3 separate regions of the Homo sapiens genome follow, and regions 1 and 3 are each linked to region 2. Evidence: fine-mapped expression QTL. A gene starts in region 2. Each other region holds a variant in brackets. All regions are shown on one strand. Distances are from middle to middle. Region 1 has its middle 48 kb from the start of LINC01516. Region 2 holds the start of THNSL1 (threonine synthase like 1). Region 3 overlaps ENKUR (enkurin, TRPC channel interacting protein).

The links. PIP is the estimated chance that this variant, and not a neighbour inherited with it, causes the effect.
Region 1: its variant is fine-mapped to the expression of THNSL1 in lymphoblastoid cells (TwinsUK, PIP 0.95).
Region 3: its variant is fine-mapped to the expression of THNSL1 in esophagus mucosa (GTEx, PIP 0.92).

The regions. Positions count from the first base shown.
Region 1 is chr10:25,061,059-25,069,243 of GRCh38, reverse strand. It overlaps a transcript of ENKUR not described here. Among named protein-coding and RNA genes, the nearest start is that of LINC01516, 48 kb to the left of the region's middle. RefSeq lists enhancers at 373-931, 115-1,314, 932-1,491, 6,328-7,527, 8,119-8,185. The variant G/AG (reference allele first, on the strand shown) is at 4,421.
Region 2 is chr10:25,011,909-25,020,093 of GRCh38, reverse strand. THNSL1 (threonine synthase like 1) reads right to left here and starts at 3,482. Exons shown (of 3, transcript NM_024838.5): 1 at 3,402-3,482. ENKUR (enkurin, TRPC channel interacting protein) reads left to right here and starts at 3,936. Exons shown (of 6, transcript NM_145010.4): 1 at 3,936-4,234. The coding sequence starts at 4,158. RefSeq lists enhancers at 2,761-2,840, 3,440-3,734, 3,045-3,807 and silencers at 3,091-3,170, 3,351-3,550, 3,881-3,930.
Region 3 is chr10:24,982,869-24,991,053 of GRCh38, reverse strand. It overlaps ENKUR (enkurin, TRPC channel interacting protein), which reads left to right. Exons shown (of 6, transcript NM_145010.4): 4 at 445-591; 5 at 6,149-6,318; 6 at 6,678-8,185. The coding sequence ends at 6,684. It also overlaps a transcript of THNSL1 not described here. Among named protein-coding and RNA genes, the nearest start is that of ENKUR, 29 kb to the left of the region's middle. The variant C/T (reference allele first, on the strand shown) is at 3,905.

The DNA of each region.
Region 1 (8,185 bases), 49 kb before region 2:
CTAGTTTATTTATCTTTGATTTTCTTTGAGACCTGGTGTTGCCAGTTTAACCATTCCATTGAACAGGGGACTAAACAGCAGTTAGTGACAGGTAGTCACTACTCACTAGGTTTCAGCATTTATTAGCTGGTGAAAGCAAGACTTAGTGAGCAGGCACAGAAACTCTCATTCACCTGTTGATGTCTAGTCCTGCTCTCTGATCCTGGACACTCTGGTAAGCACCTTGCACTGAAAATGCACATAAAAATGTACACTGCAATGGAATGCCACCATATTTTAAAGACAGGACAACAGAGTCCTACATACAGTATGAAAGGGGGGATGTAGGGGCCTCAGGAAGCATGGGGCTCTGTACCTGTAGTTTGTCTATGGGAGTATTGTCTTTGGCTTGCTGCATTCTTAAACCTTGTTCCAGCTGGGGTGGTGGGAAGCACACTCTTTCCAGTCAAAATCATCCCTTGAAAGCTACCATTCCACCAGGGAAATTTTTACTTCCACCATCTCTTATGCTAATGAACACACCGTTTGTGGGGTAGATTTCAATAACAATATTTGAAGTGCTAAGTAACCCCCTCCTAAGTGTGGATCCCTAATTAGGATGTTTCAAATGCTAACTAACAACTCTTGGAACGTGGATGTCTGATTAGGGTACTTCAAATACCTCCTCCTTCCTCCCTCCTCCTAGGGTGTCGATTGCACGAAAGTATTTTAAAGTAAATCAGCACAGAGATGATGTCATCCCTACATAGGACTTGCTAGTGAAAACAAGAGAAAAAAGTGTCCCTTTGTGTGCGTGAGATACTCGTCACAAGGACAAGTAGAGACAAGCTTGGAGTGATGTGGCCCCAGTCATTTCCTCTTCCCGAATGGGTATGCAGATGATGAGTTAGTAAAGCATGAGTCTCTGTATCCCTTTGTCTGAAAACCCACATGACACATGCTGGCTCTACAAACACCACCATTATCCCTCATGACTTTTCCATAGCTGAGCAGTGCTGACGTAGAGGAGTCAAGGCGCAGACAGGCTGCCACCCTGAAAAATAAGAGCACTACCCGAAACAAAGGCCCCGGGTAGCATCATGATTTTATGTGGCTGGGCTTGAGACAGATGGCACATTCACTGGGCTCTGATTGGGAAAGGGTACTTATTCTGGGCTAAAGAGAAGACCCTGCCACCCTGGGCAAGCTGATGGAGCCAGGATGCCTCCCCCTGAGTGAGATGTGGCCTGTCTGTATTTTGTTTAAGTGTGACACCTTCAACTCAACATCACACTTCTGGGATAGCACAGAATCACTGAGGACCCTTAGGTGTCCCATGAAAGCTCTGGACCCAATATGCAGAAAAAAGAAAAAACGAAGAGCACATACGCATATACATACTTTTGTACATAATTACATAATTTCAGGAGGATTATGAACTCCCTCATCCCTTTCTAAAATATATTTTTTTGGAAATAGAGTCTCGCTCTCTTGTCCAGGCTGGAGTGCAATGACACAATCTTGGCTCACTGCAACCTCCGCCTATGGGTTCAAGTGATTCTCCTGCCTTAACCTCCAGAATAGCTGGAACTACAGGCGCTCGCCACCATGCCCAGCTAATTTTTGTATTTTTGTTAGTAGAGACAGGGTTTTACCATGTTGGCCAGGGTGGTCTTGAACTCCCGACCTCAAGTGATCTGCTTGCTTCAGCCTCCCAAAGTGCTGGGATTACAGGCATGAGCCACCATGCCTGGAGCTTTCTAAAATATTATGTGCCTTTCAGTGCAATCTAAAATTATTTTTTTTTAGGGCAAAATATTGCAATAAAATAAATAAATTTTTCATAATGTCAATTCATTTCAAATTGGATTTTAGCTTAAAATAAAGAATTTTCTGGTCTTGGGAATGTCCAACAGTGGCCTAAATGGTCCTGATTTCCTTTGTTACTGAACCAACCTTGGGTCCACGCACTGGGCTCTGCAAAGCCAATACTCACATCAGGATTGCAGCAAGAGAAAGTGGGAGATTTATTGCAGGATGCCCAGGAAGGAGAATTGACAGCATGTGGTTAAGATGTGAATTCCCTGACAGTTTACAGGTAAGGGACTTCAAAGGTGGGGAGCCAGAGGTGACAAGCAAAGCCATAAATCAATACATGAAGGCGACATATTGGTTTGACCTAAAAAGGGGGAACATCTCAAAGCAGGTATGCTGGGGTAGATTAGAAGATATTTTATTTTACTTTGAGACGAGTTTCACTCTTTTTGCCCAGACTGGAGTACAATGATGCGATCTTGGCTCACTGCAACCTCTGCCTCCTGGGTTCAAGTGAGTCTCCTACCTCAGCCTCCCAAGTAGCTGGGATAACAGAAGCACACCACCATGCCTGGCCACTTTTGTATTTTTAGTAGAAACGGGGTTTCACCATGTTGGCCAGGCTGGTCTCGAACTCCTGACCTCAGGTGATCCACCACCTCGGTCTCCCAAAGTGCTGGGATTACAGGCATGAGCCACCACGCCCGGCCAGATTAGAAGATTTTCTGATTTGAGATTGGTTAAGGAGCTGAAGCTTTCTCTAAAAATTTGGGGCCAGCAGAAAAGAATGTTAGCTCTGGCTCGTGGGTGTGACCTCCTCCAGGACCCCAGGAAGAAATTTAGATAAAGAATGGCGGTCAGAGTTCAGTCCTCAGCTTCCCCTTCTCTGAGGTCTACATTCTAGCAGATGGTATTTTCCATTCGGTGGCGTCTGGGTTTCTGAAAAACAGCTCAGGGACGCATGTTAAGATGTCGTCTTTAGTTTCTATAGTTTCTATAGTCACAAAACATTTTGTGACTCTAACTTCCTTGGTGATTGTTTTAAGCTATTACCTTTTTAAATGTTTTGTATTTTTTTTCATGATGTCTTCTGACAGAGGGTTGATATAATCTTTTTTTAAAAATTTTGAGTTCCCAGGTACATGTGCAGGATGTTCAGGTTTACATACTCAGCAAATCTTCTCGATTATAAAGTTCCTCATCTACTTCTCAAGGCTAGCTAGGTTCCTGGAACTTCCCTTGAATGAACTCTAAATTTTTCTTTCTTTCCATGCTTGGGAAGATTGTTGGGGTGACTGGCAGGCCCCTATGGGGGGTCCCTGCTCTGTCTAACCTTGTTCCTGGTAATGTTTGGCTGAGGTTGTTGCTGCCTGGCAAGGATGTTAAGGAAGAGATTCCTATACAGGGTGGGGACTGAAGAAGATGCCCTGCACATGGGCCTTTCAACTCTAAGAATCTATGAGCTTCCACTTTCAGGCACCCTTACAACCCCAGGGAAGGAGCGTGCTGGAGAATCTTCTGGAGTCATGACTCCATCTCCCCACGGGTGGGTCAAACTTTCTCTGAGGGTTAGGTCTGTACATTAGGATCAATTCCAACATCAAGTTCAGTAGCCTCTTCCTGTGGAGAGTAGAGTAGGGACTTGTGGATGGAACTCAAGGGCAGAGAGCAGAACAAGGGCCTAGGGATCAAATTTCTTCCAGGACTAAGAAGACACAGATGCAAAACTAGGGGCAGTTGAGATTTCAAGCAGAAGTACAGTTTTCCTGTGGAATTTGTTTCCTCCTTACTACCTGTATTAGTCTGTTTCTGTGTTACTATGAAGAAATATCTGAGATGGGGTAATTTATAAAGAAAAGAGGTTTAATTGGCTCACGGTCCTGCAGGCTGCACAGGAAGCATAACAGCTTCTGCTTCTGGGAAGGCCTCAGGAAGCTTCCAATAATGGTGGAAGGCAAAGGAGGAGTAAGTGTCCTACATGGAGGGAGCAGGAGTGAGAGAGGTGGGAGGGGCCACACACTTTAAGATCACCAAATCTCACGAGAACTCACTCACTGTTGCAAGGACAGTACCAAGGAGGATGGTGCTAAAGCATTCATGACAAATTCACCCCATGAGCCAGTCACCTCCCACCAGGCCCAAACTTCAACACTGGGGATTACAATTCAACATGAGATTTGGGTGGGGACACAGATGCAAACCACATCACCGCCTCCTATACAAATCCCCAGCCCCAGACAGAGAGGAAGTCAGTGTAAAACGATTCTTACTTGAAGAATGAAAGGGCCAGGCACGGTGGCTAATGGCTGTAATCCCAGCACTTTCGGAGGCCGAGGCGGATGGATCACCTGAGGTCAGGAGTTCAAGGCCAAATGGTAAAACCCCATCTCTACTAAAAATACAAAAATTAGCCAGGTGTGGTGACAGCTGCCAGTAATCCCAGCTACTTGGGAGGCTGAGTCATGAGAATTGCTTGAACTCGGGAGGCAGAGGTTGCAGTGAGCCATGATTGCACCACTGCACACCAGCCTGGGTGACAGAGTGAGACACTGTCTCAAAAAGTAAAATAAAATAAAAATAAATCAAATATAATGGTAGCCTTCAGTGATTTTTTAAAAAAAAAAAA[G/AG]TCCCTTCTTTGGAGCTCTGTTTCTTTGGTCATCCTCTCTTTATCCTGGCAAAATTTTACCCTTCCCTCCTTCTTTGGGAGTTAGGAGAGGTTGCAACCAGTTATCTGGGCCACTCCTTCTATTTCTCTCCCTATGACAGCCTAGTCTAGTCCCTGTAGCCTAGTCTAGTCCCTGTAGCCTCCTGGCTGAACTACAACAAGAATCTCTTAACCATTCTCTGCCTCTGTTTCATCCTTCCCACTGAGTTTCCTTCATGCCATTCCATCTTGCCCCGTGAATCAACACCTCAATCTGAATTAAGAGCAATGATGGGTGCAGTGGCTCATACCTGTCATCCCAGCACTTTGGGAGGCTGTGCTGGGAGGATCTCTTGAGCCCAGGAGTTCGAGACCAGCCTAGCAACACAGGGAGACCCCTTATCTCTACAAAAATAAAAAATAAAGTTCAAAAAAACTTAAAAATAAAGTGTTCTTAACTGCAAGTACTGATTTTCAGTCAAGCTGTTTCGAACATGAACAAGTTCATATAGAAAGAGCCAGGGAAATGACAAGCAGGAATTTCTTTATTTGAAAACATTGAGTGATTCTCCCCTTGCCACCACAGGTCTACCATTGGTGATTCACATGTTCTCATTTCAGCCATGTTCTCTTTTGGACGAGGCTTTGTGGTCTACAGGAGTGGAGTCTATGTCTTCTACCCCTTTTGAATCCTCCACTTCATTTCTTATAAAGCTGAGCACTGAGACAGGTACTTTATAAAATCTTATTGACACACGCACGGTGGCTGAGGAAATCAGCTACTCTTTCAATGGCGGTGTACCCTTCAAACAATAATCAGTGTTCTTGAAGGCCGGTGACAAGACCACTCCAACCACCAAATATATGGCAAGAATCTTTCTGGGAAGAGCAAATAGATTTTGAGGGGGCTTGAAGATGGAAAACACTCCAGAGTTACAGACTTTGCTCTCAAACCATCTGCGCACGTCCGACCTATTGAGCCGGTGTCACTTGTCCCTTGCAGAGTGTGCCTGCCTCATTCCACAATCTGCCCATGAACATTTAGTGAGTGTCTGTTATTGGCAGCTCCTGGTTAGGTAAAGTGGGAACAAAGATGGACACGGGAGAGCCCCGGTCCTCAAGTAGTCCAAATCTGCTGGCAACTGGGACACATCAGAGCAACTATGACTCAATTTAGTAATTGTCTACAGAGTGTGGTTTTGCACAAAGGGCTTCTCAATTGCAAGGGGGAACAGGAGAAAGTCTCAAAGGGGAGAAAATATTTGAATGGGGCTTTGATGCACAAGGAAGACTAAACCAATACAGATTTGAGGGAGGAGCATTATAAGCACAGGGAATGACAAGTAAAAACACAGGAGCCAGGCATGCTGGCTCACACCTGTGATCCCATTGCTGTGGGAGGCTGAGATGGGAGGATGGCTTGAAGTCAGGAGTTTGAGACCAGCCTAGGCAACATAGTGAGACCGCATCTCTACAAAAAATTTTTTAAGTACTTAGTCAGGCATGGTGAACACACCTGTAGTTCCAGCTATTCAGGAGGCTGAGGCAAGAGGATTTCTTGAGTCCAGGAGTTTGAGACTGCAGTGAGCTATGATGATGCCACTACACTCCAGCCTGGGCAGCAGAGTGAGACTCTTAAAAAAAAAAAAGACCAGACACAGTGGCTCATGCCTGTAATCCCAGCACTTTGGGAGGCTGAGGCAGGAAGATCACAAGGTCAGGAGATCGAGACCATTCTGGCCAACGTGGTGAAACCCATCTCTACTAAAATACAAAAAAAATAGCCAGGTGTGGTGGCGCACATCTGTAGTCCCAGCTCCTTGGGAGGCTGAGCCAGGAGAATAGCTTGAACCCGGGAGGCGGAGGTTGCAGTGAGCCAAGATTGCGCCACTGCACTCCAGCCTGGGCAACAGAGCAAGACTCCATCTGAAAAAAAAAAAAAACAAAAAAAAAAACCACAAAAAAACACAGAGGAGTGAGAAGCAAGTGCCTGTGGTGCAGGGGTGGAGCATGCAGTGGGAAGGGGAGGGAGGTGATGTGCAGGGGGATTTCCTTTCCTGGCCCTGCCTTTCCTGTCATTTTCGGGCAGCCCAGGTGACCAGGCCCTCTTCCACCACTGTGTGAGTCACCACCTATCTCCTCCACCCAGGCCTGAGTGTGGCTGATCAAGGTACGTGCTGTTACTAACACGTTCCTCCGAACACAGCGTCAACAATTAGTAATGAATGAGGCCAGACCCGCTGTGTCACCAGCTGCCGGAAAGCCAGCTCCAGAGGTGCCATCAGCCCAGCTCATGGCCAGGGCTTCCTTCCCAGCCATGCCTGCAGACAGGCTCCTGCTCCAGGAAATAGGACCACATTCTTAGGAGGGACACACAGAGGGGAAAAACAGAAAGAAAAACTGCAGGAGGAGGCTGACCCGAGGCTGCCCAGACAGGGAGTGGCTGTGAAAAAGTCCAAGGTTTTCCTCAAACATTCCACAATCGTCTATAGACACTGAAAAGCAGGCATGTTTAACTTTTTCTCTCCCTTAAGAGAGGAACACTGGTGGAAAAGTGACAAGAGAGCAACAAGTCCTACTTGCTCAAGAAGAGAATGACTCAATACGCAGGATTAGGCTTATAGGTAAGCAAGGAAGGAGTCGCTCCAAACAATGTCATGTGTGGGGTTCCAGGGAAATTTCTGTACAAAACCACATTAAATATGAGGTCATCAAGCTGTTAGAAATGTCGAGATCCTGCTTTTAGACTGTGTAAAGTGACTAGTAAATGGCAGTTAGCTAGTAGTCGTTATCGTTACGTTATTTCTCTGTGCAAATACCCCCAAGAGTCTCAGCCAGTTGCACACTTTTGCAGTCTGACTCAGCAAATACATATTGGGTGCCTTCCATGTGCCAGTAACTATCCTACATATAAAGAACATAGCAGTGAATCGCTGGGGTTTCTAACGCAGTCATTGATGATGCAGCAGTCACGCCTCAGACTAACTTCTCAGACTGAAGAGACAGAGATGAAGGGAGAGAAGAATGTGCAGGCCTAGGTCTGGGGAAGGTGGGAAGTGCCTCCAGCTGCTGGAAGTCACCCACTACTGGGATGTCAGGTGGAGAAGGGCAGCTTGTAGGTTGGAGAGAGATGAAGAAAGGGGTTGTTGGAAAATCTGAAGAGAAACATGTTGATTTTCCGATTTTGTTTGAGACTGGGTTTAGCCATAGCCAGCATTTGGAAAATCACCTAGCTGCTCTGGTTATCCTGCTCAAAGGAAAAGTCACCCAAAGCTTGTAGATCACCAAAGTTTTTTCCTTTTTTTCCTGAAAATAGAAATGGTGGTGGCGGGGGAGAACAGTAGGCTCAGGCAATGAGGAGCAGAAGGAGGAAGAGATTCAGTTTGTGTTGGGAGGTTCCACCTTGCCATCTGTGCACTGTTACTCCTCCTTCCAGAGCCCATGAAGCAAAATGGAACAGAAGGAGCTGCACCCAACAGAGCAGGCGGCTGGAGGAGCGGCACAAGAAAGCCTGGGATAAAGTTGATTTTCCATATCTGGATGTGTCTGGCAGCATCAACCATATAGCTGCAAACCAGGGTCGATTTCAAAGCCCAGGGCCTGGCCACACGTGTCCAACACCTATGAACTTCTTATGGAGATTGTTCACCACGGAGCATGAAGACAGAGCGGGTGACTGGAGGTGGCTCCCCAGGTAATACTGACATTCTTGTGTTCACAGGTTTTGCATCTGGGCAGCCAGCCTAA
Region 2 (8,185 bases):
GCTACATACTAAATTTTATTTTGTAACATTTAACCACAAATTGATTTTAGGGGCTCAACATTTTTTAACCAACCAAATGAGGAAAAGACATCCTCATTTCTTTTTTGAGAACGTCTGCTGCAATGGCCACTCGGGAATATACATAGAAGGCATATATATGGACTTCACCAAAGCATTACACATGGTTCATTTAAAATTTTTTTAATTCACGGAGAAATGGAAAAAAAAGATTTGAGGATATTGTTGAATGATCATAAAAATGGTTCTGTTGAATAGAGGGAAATTTCTGGTAGTGCACTCCAAGGCTTTTGGTCTTGACACTCTTCTCTTTCATGTGTTTAACAATTATTTGGATTAAGCATTGAGAGGGATATTGGATAATTAGCAGTTAATAGGACTGACTTTAGAGTGAGAAAAATCTGCAGATGTGCAAGTCCTTTATATAAAATGGTGTAGTATTTGCATATAACCTGTGCACATCCTCCTGTATACCTTAATCTCTGAATAACTTATAATACATAATACAATGCAAATGCTAGGTACAGAGCTGTTGTACTAATTTGCTTTTTTGTTTGTGGTATTTTTACTGTTCCATTATTTTCGTGTTTTTGTTTGTTTTTCAGACAGGCTCCCACTCTGTTGCCCAGGCAGGAGTGCAGTGGCACAATCTTGGCTCACTACAGCCTTGACTTCCTAGGCTCAAGCAATCCTCCCACCTCAGCCTCCCAAGTAGCTGGGACTAAAGGCACGCACCACCACACCCAGCTAATTTTAGTATTTTTAGTAGAGAGGGGGTTTCGCCATGTTGCCCAGGCTGGTCTCCAACTCCTGGGCTCAAGCAGTCTTCCTGCCTTGGCCTTCAAAAAGTGCTTGGATTGCAGGTATGAGCCACTGTGCCCAACTAAAATTTTAAAATATTTTCAATCTGTAATTAGTTGAATCTGAGAATGGGAAATTCACAGATATGGAGAACTAACTGTGTATCAGGACACAAACTAGCCAAAAGGAGGTTAAGCTCTACTGCTTCTGACTTCTGACCAAAAATTCTCTCAAACTTTTCATTCAGAGGGCCTCCCACTTGCCATGAAACAGAGGTGAGGGTGGAAGGACCACACAATCCAGTATAGTTCTGTAATCACAAGGATCTCACAACTAAAACAATTTTGCAAGTTCATCACTTAGTCTTTATATTACTATCAAAGCTGACTAAGCTTTTTCTGCCGTTAGACTTCTGCTGTTAGACATATTCTTAACGATCTCGAATATTTAATTGAAAACTTTAGTATCCACAATTCTATAACTTTGAGAATTATAAAGAACCTGTCTTTATAAAGGGTTTATTTACCTTCCAATTGTCTTATATACTCATCTACACCCATTTTATTCATTTAAATAGATTAAAATAATCCTTCGCAAAAAAAAAAAAAAAAAAAACAACTCTCATTTGTTTATGTACATCACAGGCATACCATTATATACGGGGATCTAGGATCTGTGCAAACTACAATCCACAGGCTAAATCTGGCCCACCATCATTTTCATAAATCAAGTTTCTTTGAAGCACAACTTCAGTCATTCATGTGCTCACATATTTGTTCAGTACCGTCTTTGGCTGCTTTTGAGCTACAATGGCAAAACTGAGTAGTTGCAACATAACCACTTGGCCTAAAAAGGCCTGAAATATTTACTGTCTACCCCTTTATAGACAGTTTGTTCATCCCTGTAGGTATATACCAGTTAATTCCCTGTGGACATGCGGTGGACACAGGCATTTTTTTGAAGTGTCATTTCAAGAGCATTATAAAAACTAGAAATAATTTTGCTTAAACACACTTTCAAAAGGCAAGGAGAATTGCAGATCAAATGTCTAAGAAAAAAGAAAAGTTTTTTTCCAAATGATTTAACAACCTGCTCATGGCTGTAAACTAACTATACCACAGTGAGGTCTTGCACAAATTGTTTAGCATTTTTTAAAGCATAATAAATATACAGACATCAGTGAAATTATTTTATTTCAGTAACCCCAGAACATCAAGGCTACCAAAGGCCAGTTGGTGCTAACTGCAGAAATCATGTTTTGCCCTTACTTGCTATTTCAGGAACTGATTAACACAAATAGTCTCAAGGTGTTCCTTCTAATTAGAAAATTCATAAGCTTTAGCCAGTGACTATCCACTTGGCTAATGGCGTTATCATTCCATGAGTCCTTGGTTCGAATCTTCGTACATACAGGAGGTTTCCCGCCAAATTTTTTCTCTATACTTGCTAAACAGAAATCCCAAACATAAAATACTCAAGGGCGAAAAGAAAGGGGCAAAGTGATATAGATTTGGATCTAGATCTAAATATAGATCTACAGATCCATCTATCTAAAATGTTTTGGAAGACAATCTGATGTGAAGAAATCTGGAGAATTTTCCCTAAGCGTCTGGGACAAAAATTAAAATCAACTGTATACAAAAAAAAAAAAAAGAAAAACTTAACGTATTCTTATGTAGTGAAATTCAGTAAGAGCCCAAAGTAAGGACCTACACATTCAGTAAAGCCTTTTTATACAGGAACTAAAAGGTTCACCAGGCCATTGTGTTGTTTTAATCACTCCGCCAGCCAACCAGGCAGTGAGAAACCCAGACTCAAGTGTGTTTTCTCTCCTCTCCGGGAAGCTTTATTTCCTTCGGGCAGAGTGGCCTCTGTACCGGTGGTTCAGAGGCATCCATCTTCCTCCCCAAATCCTATTACCAAAATGTCTTTTAAACACTCGGGTAAAAGCGTCTAAATGACTTTCCTACGGCAGGCCCATGTGCATAGATTTACGGGTGACCAGGTGGAACAAAAAGGAATAAAACCGCTTCTCAGAAGACAATTTTCCAACAAGGGACACCAAAAACTGGACAAAAACGTAAAGGCCCACTTAAAAGGCTTCTCCTCTTAGTTTAGGCTGCTCATTTACAAAGAGCAGGTCCACTGGTTCCTGGAGAACGACCTAGAGGAAGAGTCCCGACCCGGGGAAGAGCAGGCGCAGAGCCGACCCGGAGGACCGCCCAAGGGGCGGTCCCGGGAGCAGGGGCGGGAGGGCGAGCGCAGCAGGCGGAGGAGGCCGCGGGCCCCGTGCGCGCACTCACACACGTGGCGGGCAGGGCTGCGCGGCGTTCCGAGGAGCCTCGACCAGAAGCAGCAGGAAAAATGCGCGCAGAGTTGAGATGACCAGCGAGTAGCGGAAAGGGGAAGGGACGGTACGGGGAAAGGCATGCGATGGGAGCGGGCTGGCTTCTAGTTTTCCTTCCTTTCTCCTCCAATAACTCACCAAGGAAATCTCACTGAGAAGACGGGGGAAATGAAAGGAAATGGGGGAGCAGTGTCCACGAGCCGCTAAAGCCTCCACAGGAGACGGAGCACCGTACCTGCAGCTAGCTCCCCGGTCCCGCCCCCGCGCAGTGGACTCTGCGCCTGTGCCTGCGGCGGCCAGCGTGCCTCCGCTCCACGCCCTTCCCCGAGCGGCCTCGCGCAGGGCACGTGACTCTCCTTTCTCACTGTAGCCTATCCGAGCACTCCGATCTCCTCAGGCTCCTCCCCTCCCTCGTCTCCCTGGCGGCGCTGGCCTTGCGTCCTCGTGGTCTCAGCCGCTCGCTCCGCCCACACCGCGATTGGGGCCTGCTCACAAAAACCTTATTGGGTGACGCCTGCGCACCAGCTGCGCTTTGCCGTCTCTACTAGGATTTTTCTTTTTTCCCCAGATACACAGAAATAGAAAAGAGCACAGTTTTTAAGGGGACATCATTTTCACCCCGTTAACTTTCAAAGGCACGTAAAAACAGTGGCTTCCAAATGAGCTTCTCTAGCAGAAGGCGCTGCAGAAAGAGGGAAGAGGGGAGACCTAGTTTGCGGTGCTGCCTGCCACTTCCTCGTTGCCTAGTAACGGTTTCCACGGCAACCGCACAGTCAACGACGCTTAGCAATCCGGAGAGAAATAGGGTGTTTTCTTCCCGAGAGAGGACTGCTAAGAGGGGGTTAAAGGGGGACGATGTGAAGGAGAGAACCTGTGGTCCTTCAGAAGGCGAAGAAGAAAGAAAGGGGAAGCAGTGAAGAAAGGGACGGAGATACTGGGACAGGGAGAAAAAAGTTGTGGAGAGTAGCTTTTAAGGAGTCATTTGGTGGCCATGGATCCAACGTGCTCTTCTGAGTGCATTTATAACCTCATACCCAGTGACTTGAAGGAGCCTCCCCAGCCTCCTAGGTATGTGGATAAGCAAAGACTATCACTTGAAACAAGAATGGGGAATACTCAGTATTAATTAAGCATACATATACTGGAATTTTTAATAATAAATAAAATGTATTTTTGCCTCGATGAAGTAGCCTTGGAGGATAACTTGTTAGAGAAAAGGTCGAAATATCTAGGTATTCAGCATCTCACAGTTTTACAGAGAGGGCAGTCTGGCGCTGTGAGATGACCATTTTATTATATTACACTTAACCTCTTATTAATACGGTATGTGATTATTGTGTAATTTAATTATATGTGATATACAGCATAGTATGAAGTTTCATGTTGAAAAGAAAAAAATCACAATTCTATTATCTTGTTTAAGGATACTTGATGTTTGGTTTCAGGAGTTCGGTGTTGTATTTCTAACTGCACTACTCCCTCTCTAATGGGATAGGATAGGACTTTTCCCCCAAGATTTTTATGAAATATAAATTTACATTTGCTTTTGAGCCTCAGGTTTTTGATCAGTGAAACGAAATATCTACCACTATTAGGCAGTTTCTAAGGACTTTTTCAGATCTAATGGTTTAAATGGAAGGAAGAATTGGTGGATAGATAATGAACCAAAAAATATGTAATTGAGTTGAAATTTTACATAGGTCTTAGAACCTCTTAAATTCTCCAAATCTCAAAAACGTGCAAAGGAAGCACTTCAGTTACTCCCATCTGTAGGGACTTCTTAGAACTTACTTAAATCTGTGGGGAGCAAAGAAAGTAGTGGAGAAAATCTCATTTCTCCTAGGACTTGAAATGTTTCCTGTCTTTTACCATCATCCTTGTCCGTATGCAAGTCAAAACCACATTTGAAAAGGACTGGACTAAAAATCGGGCCTAGCAATTAATTGTCTTTGTGAACTTTAGAATAAAGTTTCATTTGTTTACTGATCTGTGAGATAAATGTACCAGATAATATCCAAGGCCCCTTTTAGATCTAATGGTCAATTATTTTTACTAGTATTAGGGTAATAGCTTCAACAAGTAGGCAGCTTCTTCAATTTTAAGTATCTGGTTTAAATTAGAGCAGTAACTGTATTACATCTCCATTAGCATATCAACATCTAGAGACTGGAAAGAGGAATGTAAAGTAAGTTATGGCACAGTTGCAGAATTTATTTTCAAATTTTCTATTGTTGCACCAACTTTTGGTTTCAAATTCCTGCATATTACATGAGATAAAACTCCTCTATAACAGATTGGTAGATTGTATTTCTATAGAATATTGAATTTGAGAGTTATTTTATTAGGTAGGTATTCTGTTCTTTGGCAAATTAAAAAGCTTTACTGCATCTAGACGATTTTTTTTTTCAAAAAAAATTTATAGGAACAGTCTTTATTCATTTGGCAAGCATTAATGGAGCCCCTATTATGTGTATAATATTGCACTAGTATATCTGTTCTTGGTGCTGTTGGAGTGATAGCACAGACTTCTTGGTTTTACTATGAAGAAATGAGTAGAAGAAAGATTTATGATTAGAGGAAATAGAGGCACCCAAATGTGATGCCAAAAGAATCATTTCTGTTAGGTTAAAGTCAATTTACACTGGCAAGATTCTGACAACTGCCTGGCTTTTGATCTCCCACGCCTCAGAGTTTACCGTCTTTTTGGGGAACTGAAATATGAACACTAAAATTTATCATTGAAAACCATAATGAGAGATGAAGATACTAAATGAGAACTTAGAAGATGAATGTATGTGACCAAAATCGGATGAAAGGCACTTTTCTGCAGTTGAACTATTGGCTGAGACTTAAGTTATGAAAGCCTCAGAGTCAATGGGAAGTCATGATTCAGTTTTCAAAATTTGAGTTACTCATGATGCATAAGATGGTTTCCAAGATTTTCACCAAATCTGTCACCCTTTTTTTTTTAATTACTTTTTTTTCAAGACGGAGTTTCACTCTTTTTGCCCAGGCTGGAGTGCAATGGCGCCATCTTGGCTCACTGCAGCTTCTGCCTCCTGGGTTCAAGCGATTCTCCTGCCTCAGCCTCCCGAGTAGCTGGGATTACAGGTCCCTGCTACCATGCCTGGCTAATTTTGTATTTTTAGTAGGGATGGGGTTTCACCATGGTGGCCAGGCTGGTCTTGACCTCCTGACCTCCAGTAATCCACCCACCTCTGCCTCCCAAAGTGCTATGATTATAGGCGTGAGCCACCACGCCTGGCCTATCACCCTTTATTGATGTCTGCAGTTATTGAATATCTCCAGTCATCCCCTCTTTCCATTTTGTTTAAAGCAATATTCCAGTTATGGTCTGAACAGTCCATGAAACCATTATCTCCTTTCCATAATTCTTGGCACAATATTTTCATCCATTCAGCCTAAGCTTCCATAAGCATTTTGACAGTCATGTCCAACTATTGGCTCACACTAAAATACCCTGTATGGATTTTGACTAAGGTTGGTCTCTCCCATCCTCTAATTATGTAGCTGATTCTTTTTTATCTCAACTCATTAATCTATGGAGATAGTTTTGCATTTGAATCTTTTATACATTCTGTTAACCATTCTTTTTGTGTCATTTGCAAATTTAATAAATATGTCTTTTATATCTCTTATCTATCATAGAACATAGTATATTAGTCTGTTCTCACGCTGCTAATAAAGACATACTCGAGACTGGGTAATTTATATTTCAAAAGAAGTTTAATTGACTCACAGTTTCACATGGCTGAGGAAGCCTTACAATCATGGCAGAAGGCAAAGGCGGAGCAAAGTCACATCTTACATGGTGGCAGGAAAGAGAGTGTGTGCAGGGGAACTCCCCTTTATAAAACCATCAGATCTCATGAGACTTATTCACTATCATGAGAGCAGCACAGGAAAGACCCACTCCCATGATTCAATTACCTATCACCAGATCCCTCCCATGACATATGGGAATTATGGGATCTCATCAATTTAATGTGAGATTTGCGTGGGGATGCAGCCAAACCATATCATTCTACCCCAGCCCCTCCCAGATCTCATGTCCTCACATTTCAAAACCAATCATACCTTCCCAACAGTCCCCCAAAGTCTTAACTCATTTCAGCATTAACTCAGAAGTCCACAGTTCAAAGTCTCATTTGAGACCAGGCAAGTCCCTTCTGCCTACAAGCATATAAAATCAAAAGCAAGTTAGGTACTTCCCAGATACAATGGGGGTCCAGGCATTGGGTAAATATAACCATTCGAAATAGCAGAAATTGGCCAAAACAAAGGGGCTATAGGCCCCTTGCAAGTCCAGATTCTAATAGGGCAGTCATTAAACCTTAAAGTTCCAAAATGATCTCCTTTGACTCCATGTCTCACATCCAGGTCACGCTGATGCAAGAGGTGGGATCCTATGGTCTTGGGCAGCTCTGTCCCTGTGACCTGGCACAGTACAGCCCCCATTCCGGCTGCTTTCATGGGTGGGCATTGAGTGTCTGCAGCTTTTCTGGGTGCATGGTGCATGCTCTCAGTGGATTTACCATTCTGAGGTCTGGAGAACAGTGGCCCTCTTCTCACAGCTCCACTAGGCAGTGCCCCAGTGGGAATTCTGTGTGGGGGGCTCCCACCCCATATTTCCCTTCCACACTGCCCTAGCAGAGGTTCTCCATGAGGGCTCTGCCCCGAAGCACATCTTTGCCTAGACATCCAGACATTTTGATACAACCTTTGAAATCTAGGTGGAGGTTCCCAAACCTCAATTCTTGACTTCTGTGCACCCGTAGTCCCAACACCATGTGGAAGCCACCAAGGCTTGGGGCTCGCACCCTCTGAAGCAATGGCCTGAGCTCTACGTTGTCCCCTTTTAGCCATGGCTGTGACTCAGGGCACCAAGTCCCAAGATTGCACAAAGCAGCAAGGCCCTGGGCCCAGCCCATGAAACCATTTTTTCTCCTAGGTCTCTGGGCCTGTGATGGGAGGGGCTGCTGTGGAGACCTCTGACAG
Region 3 (8,185 bases), 29 kb after region 2:
ACCTTGGCTCACTGTAACCTCTGCCTCCCAGATTCAAGAGATTTTTGTGCCTCAGCCACCCGAATAGCTGGGACTACTGGCACATGCCACGATGCCTGGCTAATTTCTGTATTTTTAGTAGAGACGGGGTTTCACCATGTTGGCCAGGCTGGTCTCGAACTCCTGACCTCAAGTGATCCACCCCCCCACCCCTCAGCCTCCCAAAGTGCTGGGATTACAGGTGTGAGCCACTATGCCTGGGCAATAACAACTCCATTTTAAAAGGCAGGAATCTACTAGCTCTCAATGGAGGGAAAAAAGTCACTGAATTTTGTCAATTTACAGGGTTTTGAACAAAGGATTTAGTCTGTACCATTTCTTTTTCTTCCATCATCAGTTGATACGTACCCATATGTAAGATTGCATACAAAATATTGATTACTTTTTTCTGCAAAATCTTTTTAGGATTATGGTGTCACACCTGAATACATATGTAAGCGAAACGAGGAAATAAAGAAAGCCCAAGAAGACTATGATCGTTATATCCAGGAAAACCTTAAGAAAGCAGCTATGAAAAGGCTCTCCGATGAAGAAAGGGAGGCAGTTTTGCAGGTGTGTGTTCTGCCATTTACATTCATCTGTAACTCTTTGGATCATCTCTGAAAGAAAGGTGTACCATCACTTTGATGATTAAAGTCAGCACTTGGATTTTGAAATCAGAACAATCTCTTTGGGTTACAGTTAAAAACTACATACAGCAAAGCTGACTCTTTGGAGAGAGCAAAAAGTTGTGATATAGGGATTCATTTAATAATATTTTATTTCCAATTTGGTGAACTGTTTTTTTCCTGAACTAGTGTTGTAAGGAAGCCTACCTTCCTCTACAACGAACATGCATGAAATGAAGCAAATAAAGCATTTTTATTTTCATTTTTATGCCCCTGAGTTTGTGAAAAATAATATTCATAAATTAGATATTTTTCACTAGATGGAGCTCTAGAATAATTGAAACTGTCCTTAAAACAACTTTTTTTCCTTTCCTATAAGGCAAATGTCCAAAATTTTAAATAAACAGGTGCTAGGTTTCACATATGTTTTTCTTGTTTTTAATTACATAGACTTAAAGATATATTTATATTGGATTTTTTAATGCAGGGCTTTTATCTGAAGCATTTAAAATATTAGGGGGTGTAAGAGTTTCTGCTTCATCATTTGTATGAGCGTTTAATTAAACACCTCTTTGTACTTTTTATAGTCATACTGTCTCTTATAGAGGCAGAAATAATACTTAATTCTTTGTTTATTTTTCATTTTGAAAGCATCCCACGAAGCCATTTCTAGTTTATTATTAATCTCTGTTGAAAAATGGATTCATATGCTGTTACAACTTCTGAACATTTTATCAATGTCATCATAATCATCAATAAACATTTCTTAAATGCTAAACCCTGAGGATATTTTAAAAGGCATAAGATTTTTTAAAATATCTGCAGTGGAGTATTGTGCAATTTAATTAGTGAGAGGTACTATGGATCTATGTACATGTATAGATGTGAATATGTGTATGTGTGCAGCTCTTAAGTTTCATAAGGTTCCAAGGCACTAGTCACCCCTGGAGGATTGTAGATCGTTAGCTGGGCCTGAAAATGTAGAGTGACGGCATGTCCCAGACAGTAGGAGTGGCTCAAAGGCAAGGACGGTGTCTCTTTGCTGACAGCAGCATCCCCAGTGCCTAGCACAGTGCCCAGTGAAAACGCAGATGTTCAGAAATGGTCTGCTGCAAAGGAGGAAGGCAGACAGGCAGGAAGGAAGGCTGGCAGACATGGAAGTGAGAATTGGCATGTCATTTTCAGGGAGAGTTCTCGTCTGTGGCCCATTCTGTCTCTCTCATTTGGATTTTCCCATTTTCAGAAAGTACGTGCCTTTGTGAAAGCCAGGTTTTTACACCTAAATGATGCTGAAAAATAAGAATATGACAAAGAACTTAGAAGTGACAGGTCCTTCCCTTCTGTGTCTTTTTGGCTGTAGGAGATAAGCAGCCCTCAGCTTCCCATTACGGTCGCTACAGAGTTACCCTTTGATGTGATGATAGCAAATCATCCACTGGACGCCTTATGAGCCAGGGAGCAGAGCTGCCATAGTAACAAAGCCACCGGCTGGCCTCCTGACGAGCCCTGAGCCACACTTCCTTCCCTAGGCAAGAGTTGCATGTAGTTCGATGACAATCTGGTTGTATGTCCCTGAGTAAGCCACATTCTGCTCATTCTTCATAAAATAACAGTCTCATTATACCTGGACAGGATCATCTGGTCTAGTGATTCCAAACTTCTCATTTTTAAAATGAGGAATATATATATATATATATATATATATATATATATATATATATATATATATATATATATATATACATATGCTGTGTCACTCTACATTTTCAGGCCAGCTAAAGATCTATAATCCTCCAGTGGTGACTAGTGCATTGGAACCTTATGAAACTGAGGAGCTGCACACAGACACACATTCATATCTCTACATGTACATAGATCCGTAGTTCCTCTCACCAATTAAATTGCAAAATTCTCTATTTATACGTATTTTATATATAAATAAATTATATATAACATATGTACAATATAAAAAATAAATTTTACTTATATATAAATATATATACACATATATAAATATATACACATATATACATATATAAATATATATACACATATATAAATATATATATACACATATATAAATATATATACACACATATAAATATATATACATATATAAATATATATACACATATATATAAATATATATATACACATATATATATATATATACATTTTTTTTTGAGATGAAGTCTTGCTCTGTCACCCAGGCTGAAGTGCAGTGGCATGATCTTGGCTCATTGCAACCTCCACCTCTCAAGTTCAAATGATTCTCATGCCTCAGCCTCCCGAGTAGCTGAAACTACAGGCATGCACCACCACGCCCACCTAATTTTTTTGTATTTTTTAGTAAAGATGGGGTTTCGCTGTGTTGCCCAGGCTGGTCTTAAACTCCTGGCCTCAGGTGATCCACCCGCCTTGGCTTCCCAAAGTGCTAGGATTACAGGCGTGAGCCAATCTGCCCAGCCGTTAATACAAATACATTGTGGGCCCCTTTGTTCATTCATTTATTTATTGAATATCTAGTGTGTTCCAGCCAGAGGGATACTGTACAGAGCAAAATAAACACAGTCCTCAGTGTCAGTGAACTTAGAGTTTGATTTTCATTTCTCTTTGGTCACAAAACTATCAAGTACATCAATAGGGACTAAAACTCATTTACCAATTGCCAGGCTGGTGTTTCCCCCACTACAGAACACATACTTGCAGAGGAGGTAACAAAGGGAGGCTACTTCAGTCAGGGCTCCAGCAGGAAATCGAAGGCACACTCAGCTAGGACTTGGAAGAGAATTTATGTTTGTTTATTTTATGTATTTATTTGAGACAGTCTTGCTCTGTTGCCTAGGCTGGAGTGCAGTGGCACAATCACGGCTCACTGCTAGCTGGGATACCACCATGCCTGGCTGATTTTTTTTTATTTCATTTTTTTATTTTTAGAGAGGGAGTCTGACTATGTTGCCCAGGCTGGTCTCAAATTCCTGGCCTCAAGCAATCCTCCTCCCTCAGCCTCTCAAAGTGTTGGGATTGCAGGCATGAGCAGTGGCCACTGAAGAGAATTTATGAAGGAATTATTGACAGAAGTGAAGTAGGGTTAAGGGAACCAACAAGAAGCACTGAGGCACCCCAGGAGCAGGGACAGTAGGAATTTACCACCACCTACGCTTGAAAGGCAGCAGGCACAAGAAGCAGTGTTGTCAGAATCCAGTGAGAGCTGGAGCTGGGCTGAGGGTCATAGTCACAGATGAATGCAGCTAGAA[C/T]CCATGTCTAGACTGTCCTAGGAGAGGAGGAGAAATGCCCCAACCTCACTCTCCACCCTCCAGGGCCTTCTGTGGCTGAACTCAGGCCAGAGGGCGAAAGAGCTGGGAGCACCCCACAAGGTGGAGAATGTTTGGGGGTGGGCGAGGGTGCAAAAGGAGCATGAAACTGAAAACTTCTTATTATAAGATCACTTCTCCCTGTCTGAATTTTTTCCAAAATGAACGATATTATTTCAGCTTTAAAATAGAAGAGAGGAAAATTAAGAATTAACAATAAGGGAAAATCACTATTGCTGCAACACATGAAGTATCTTTTTAGATGAAATAATGAAAAAACCTCTTAAAGTCAGCACGTAGCGTATTTCAATATAATATGAAATATTAGCTACATTTAGTTTCCATCCCTGGCTGTTGACTTTGATCCAAACGTTATTGTACACACTGGAAGATAAAAGCAAACTATCCTTTAAAAGAAAATACAGAGAAAAACTGTAGCTGCTGTGACTGCAAGTAATATGGAAACATCACCCAACTAGCTATGAAAAACCTTTGATATCCGCAAATGTACAAATACATAGACTTCCTCTCTGCAATAGCCACTCCTGTGGAGCACTGTGGGAACCTCTTTCACATTTCATAATGAAAGGCTGTGGAGAAATAGAATTCTTTTGAGGGCTTCTTTTTGGAATACATCGCATACACTGTCAAGAACTGTGTAGCCTCCTCTTTTTAAAATTTAACCTGGATACTTTTTCTTCTATCCTTTCCCTTTCCCAGATCCTTAGCTCACTCAAGAAGGCCTCATAATTTGTTGCCCTTTTCCCCAACCAACCTCTTCTATACAGTGTGCCCTGACCTGTCATCATCCCTTTTATCTAAGCATGGAAATAAATCAGTGAAATTGTATTGTCCCTGAAAGTTTCTACAAGATTAAATTTGTACAAGAGCTTACTATGACAGCATAATTATATAAGACACTTGTAATCCTCTTTTACACCTAAATGTATGGCCATAGTTTTCAAAGACCATGTTTTCAAGGCAGTATTTTAAGTTTTGGAGTTTTGGTTTTGTTTTTGTTTTCAGGCAGGGTCTCTGCTCTGTTGTTTCAGGCTGGAGTGCAGTGGCGCAATCATCGCTCACTGCAGCCTCAACCTCCTGAGCTCAGGTGATCCTCCCACCTCAGCCTCTCAGGTAGCTGGGACTACAGGCCCATGCTACCACACCTGGCTATTTTTTGTATTTTTTGTAGCGACAGGGTTTTGCCATGTTGCCCACACTGGTCTCGAACTCCTGGGCTCAAGCAATTCACCTGTCAAGGCAGTATCTTAAATTGCACTTTCTGTTTTGCTTTTGTGTAAATAAAATAATCTATGTGCCCATAATGAATAATTAAAAAGTGTTGACTTATAAAATTTCATTGAATTAATTTAATTACTAGTTTAAGACCATTTTGTCTGTGGAGCCCATAGGGCACTGTGATAAAAAAATGATAATTATGCAGAAACAGAAATAACTTTTATTGCTCCTAAGAGATCCCTAATTTTGAATTTGTTGATTTCTGAGAATAGAAACTGTTAGCTACATTATTGAATTAGCATGTGTGTTACATTTAATGACCTTTCAATCATTTATAGAATACATTAATGGGAACTGTAGATCCCTTGACTATATGGAGGGCAATTGGTTCTTTCTAATATATTGAAAGGACACTTAGAAGATCATCTTTTGTACAAGTGAATTTTGGCAATTTTACAATCCCATTTGTTAGATATAAGAAAATATAGCCATCCACATCAGAATTAGGTCTTTTATGTGATTTGTCTGTTGAAGAATGAGGATAAAAAATAAAATTTTACAAAACAATTTTCTGTTCAAAAATGTTTTTGACTCGAGGATATCATTCTAAGTTGTTTTTTACCCATGCATTTGCTGTGAGCTTTAGCTTCACACTACTCATAACTCTGCGTGTACATTTTTGATGGTAAAAACAAGTACAGTAACAACAAAAGCAGAGCAAACAAATACTCCCAGTGGGAACTGAGCACACAGTCAAGGATGGGATTTGGCCTCTGTACAGTATTTTTGGTTACCGTGGCCAAGTACTTGATAAATACATTTCATTTTAGAAGTTATTTTTGTCAGTTTCTTTTACTTATTGACATTTTTCATTACCAATTAGCTTTTCCCATTTCCTTTACTTTTGCAGTTTGCTTTGGTATTTACAAGTTTCTTGACCATTTGCAGGGGCTGAAAAAGAACTGGGAAGAGGTGCATAAAGAATTCCAGTCCCTCTCGGTCTTTATAGATTCTATACCAAAGAAGATCCGCAAGCAGAGGCTGGAAGAAGAAATGAAACAACTAGAACACGACATTGGCATAATTGAAAAGCACAAGATTATTTATATTGCCAATAAGTAAGAATGGATCTTTAAAGTATAACAATTTCAATGTAGGGGAAAAAAACATGGAAAATATAAAAAACTCCAAGTTTTTCAAAAAGGAAAATACTATGAAGAGAATAAAAATAGTCTTAATCAGAATGCTTAGGCAATATGCAAAGAATAATTGAGTTATTCACTTACACAAGAAGAAATTTTGTTTTTACTAGTGTCACGTTTTCCACATATAAACTATTAAATTTGAGAATATGTGTTCCAGTTCCACAATGTAATTCATTATTATTATGTACTTGTTTCACATAAACATTAATTTCTAGGTCCTGAAAAATAAAGTCAGCACTCAGAACTTCACTTTTTTTTTTTTTTTTCTGCAGCGCATGATACCAACAGCACAACTTTGAAAACTGTTAAGTATTTTGAACTGGAAATAGTAACACGTGCCTTCTTGCTACTCTAAACTGTCTCCAACACATTGTTTCTGAGCTCCACAAATGCAAAAGATGTATTTTCCTGTGGCCCATGACATTTGCAGTTATTCCCAGTGAGAAATATTTTCAGTATTCGTAACACTGTATATGATGAAAGGCTTCTATTTGGAGGAAGAAAAATTAAGAAGACAACTTACAAAATCAAGATGACAACTTATAAAGGCATCATTGAGGATGATTAAGGAGAATAGCCTCCTTTCTAGCATACCAACCTCGATACTCTTATTTTATTCCACAACTCACTATGCATATCTTATTTAAATGTTTTTTTCCTTTTGGTCCTTTCTACTTATCTATTTTGTGAATTCTAAAGTTACATTTGTAAGATTACATAATCTATTAAGCAATAAGTTTATGTTAGTAGAGCTGTTTTCAACCCAAAAATAAGAAAAAATAGCTCTAAATATCTAAAAGGAAAAGGTTATTTTATGAAATTTTAAATTAGAAAAATTTGGTAAAATATATGCAACTATAAAATATCAGAGAAATAACAATTTCTACTGCTTACACTGGTTTTTATCCTCTGGACAACATAAAAAACAAAATATGGGAGTCTTTCAGGCTTTTTTCACAAACACAGAATTTGGAAGCCTTATAGAAAAGCTTATTTTGGTTACTTAAAGAAAAGTAGTTTATATACAATTATTTTTTGAAAATTCACTTGAAACTTGTCCATATGAGTATCTTTATTCCTTTATTAACTTAGGGCAGATATAAAATAAAGGATAATATATGACAAATTCTCACTTACCAAGAATGGTTGGTTGCTATTTAGGGTAGGCTAACAGCTGTGACAGTACACTCCAAAATGTATAATTACGTAAACACATATTCAATTCTTGCTAACATAGCAGTACTTTGCTGTGAGCAGGTCAGCAGGAACCCTTTTCTGCAGTCACTCAGGGACCCAGACTTACAGAGTGGGTAGGATGCATCTGATCCAGAGTTAGGGAGAGGCACGTACAGGCCAGGCCTAGAAATGATGCATATCATTCCCGTTTGCATCGCTAAGTAAGCAACTTAAGTTGCTTTAACAAACTAACTCCAAATCTCAGTTTCCTGATAAAGATACATTTTTCATTTACATCACTGTGCAATGTGACTAAGGGTAGGGGTATAAGTCTGTTCCATGCAGTCACTCAGGGACCCAGTCTCCTTTTGTCTGGTGACTCTGTTGATCCAGGCAGTCTTTCTCTGCCAATTCAGGATGAGATGTTTAGGTAAGTATTTTATTTGTGAAATGATTGCTATACATACTCATTTTTAAATAATTCAAAATCAGTAGCAATGCAAAAATATTCTGATTACTTTAGCCTTATGGATATTATGCTTTGAAGTCATGAGTGGGAGTTGCCTTAAATGTTAAAATGAAAACTTTGTGGTTTTAACAGCTA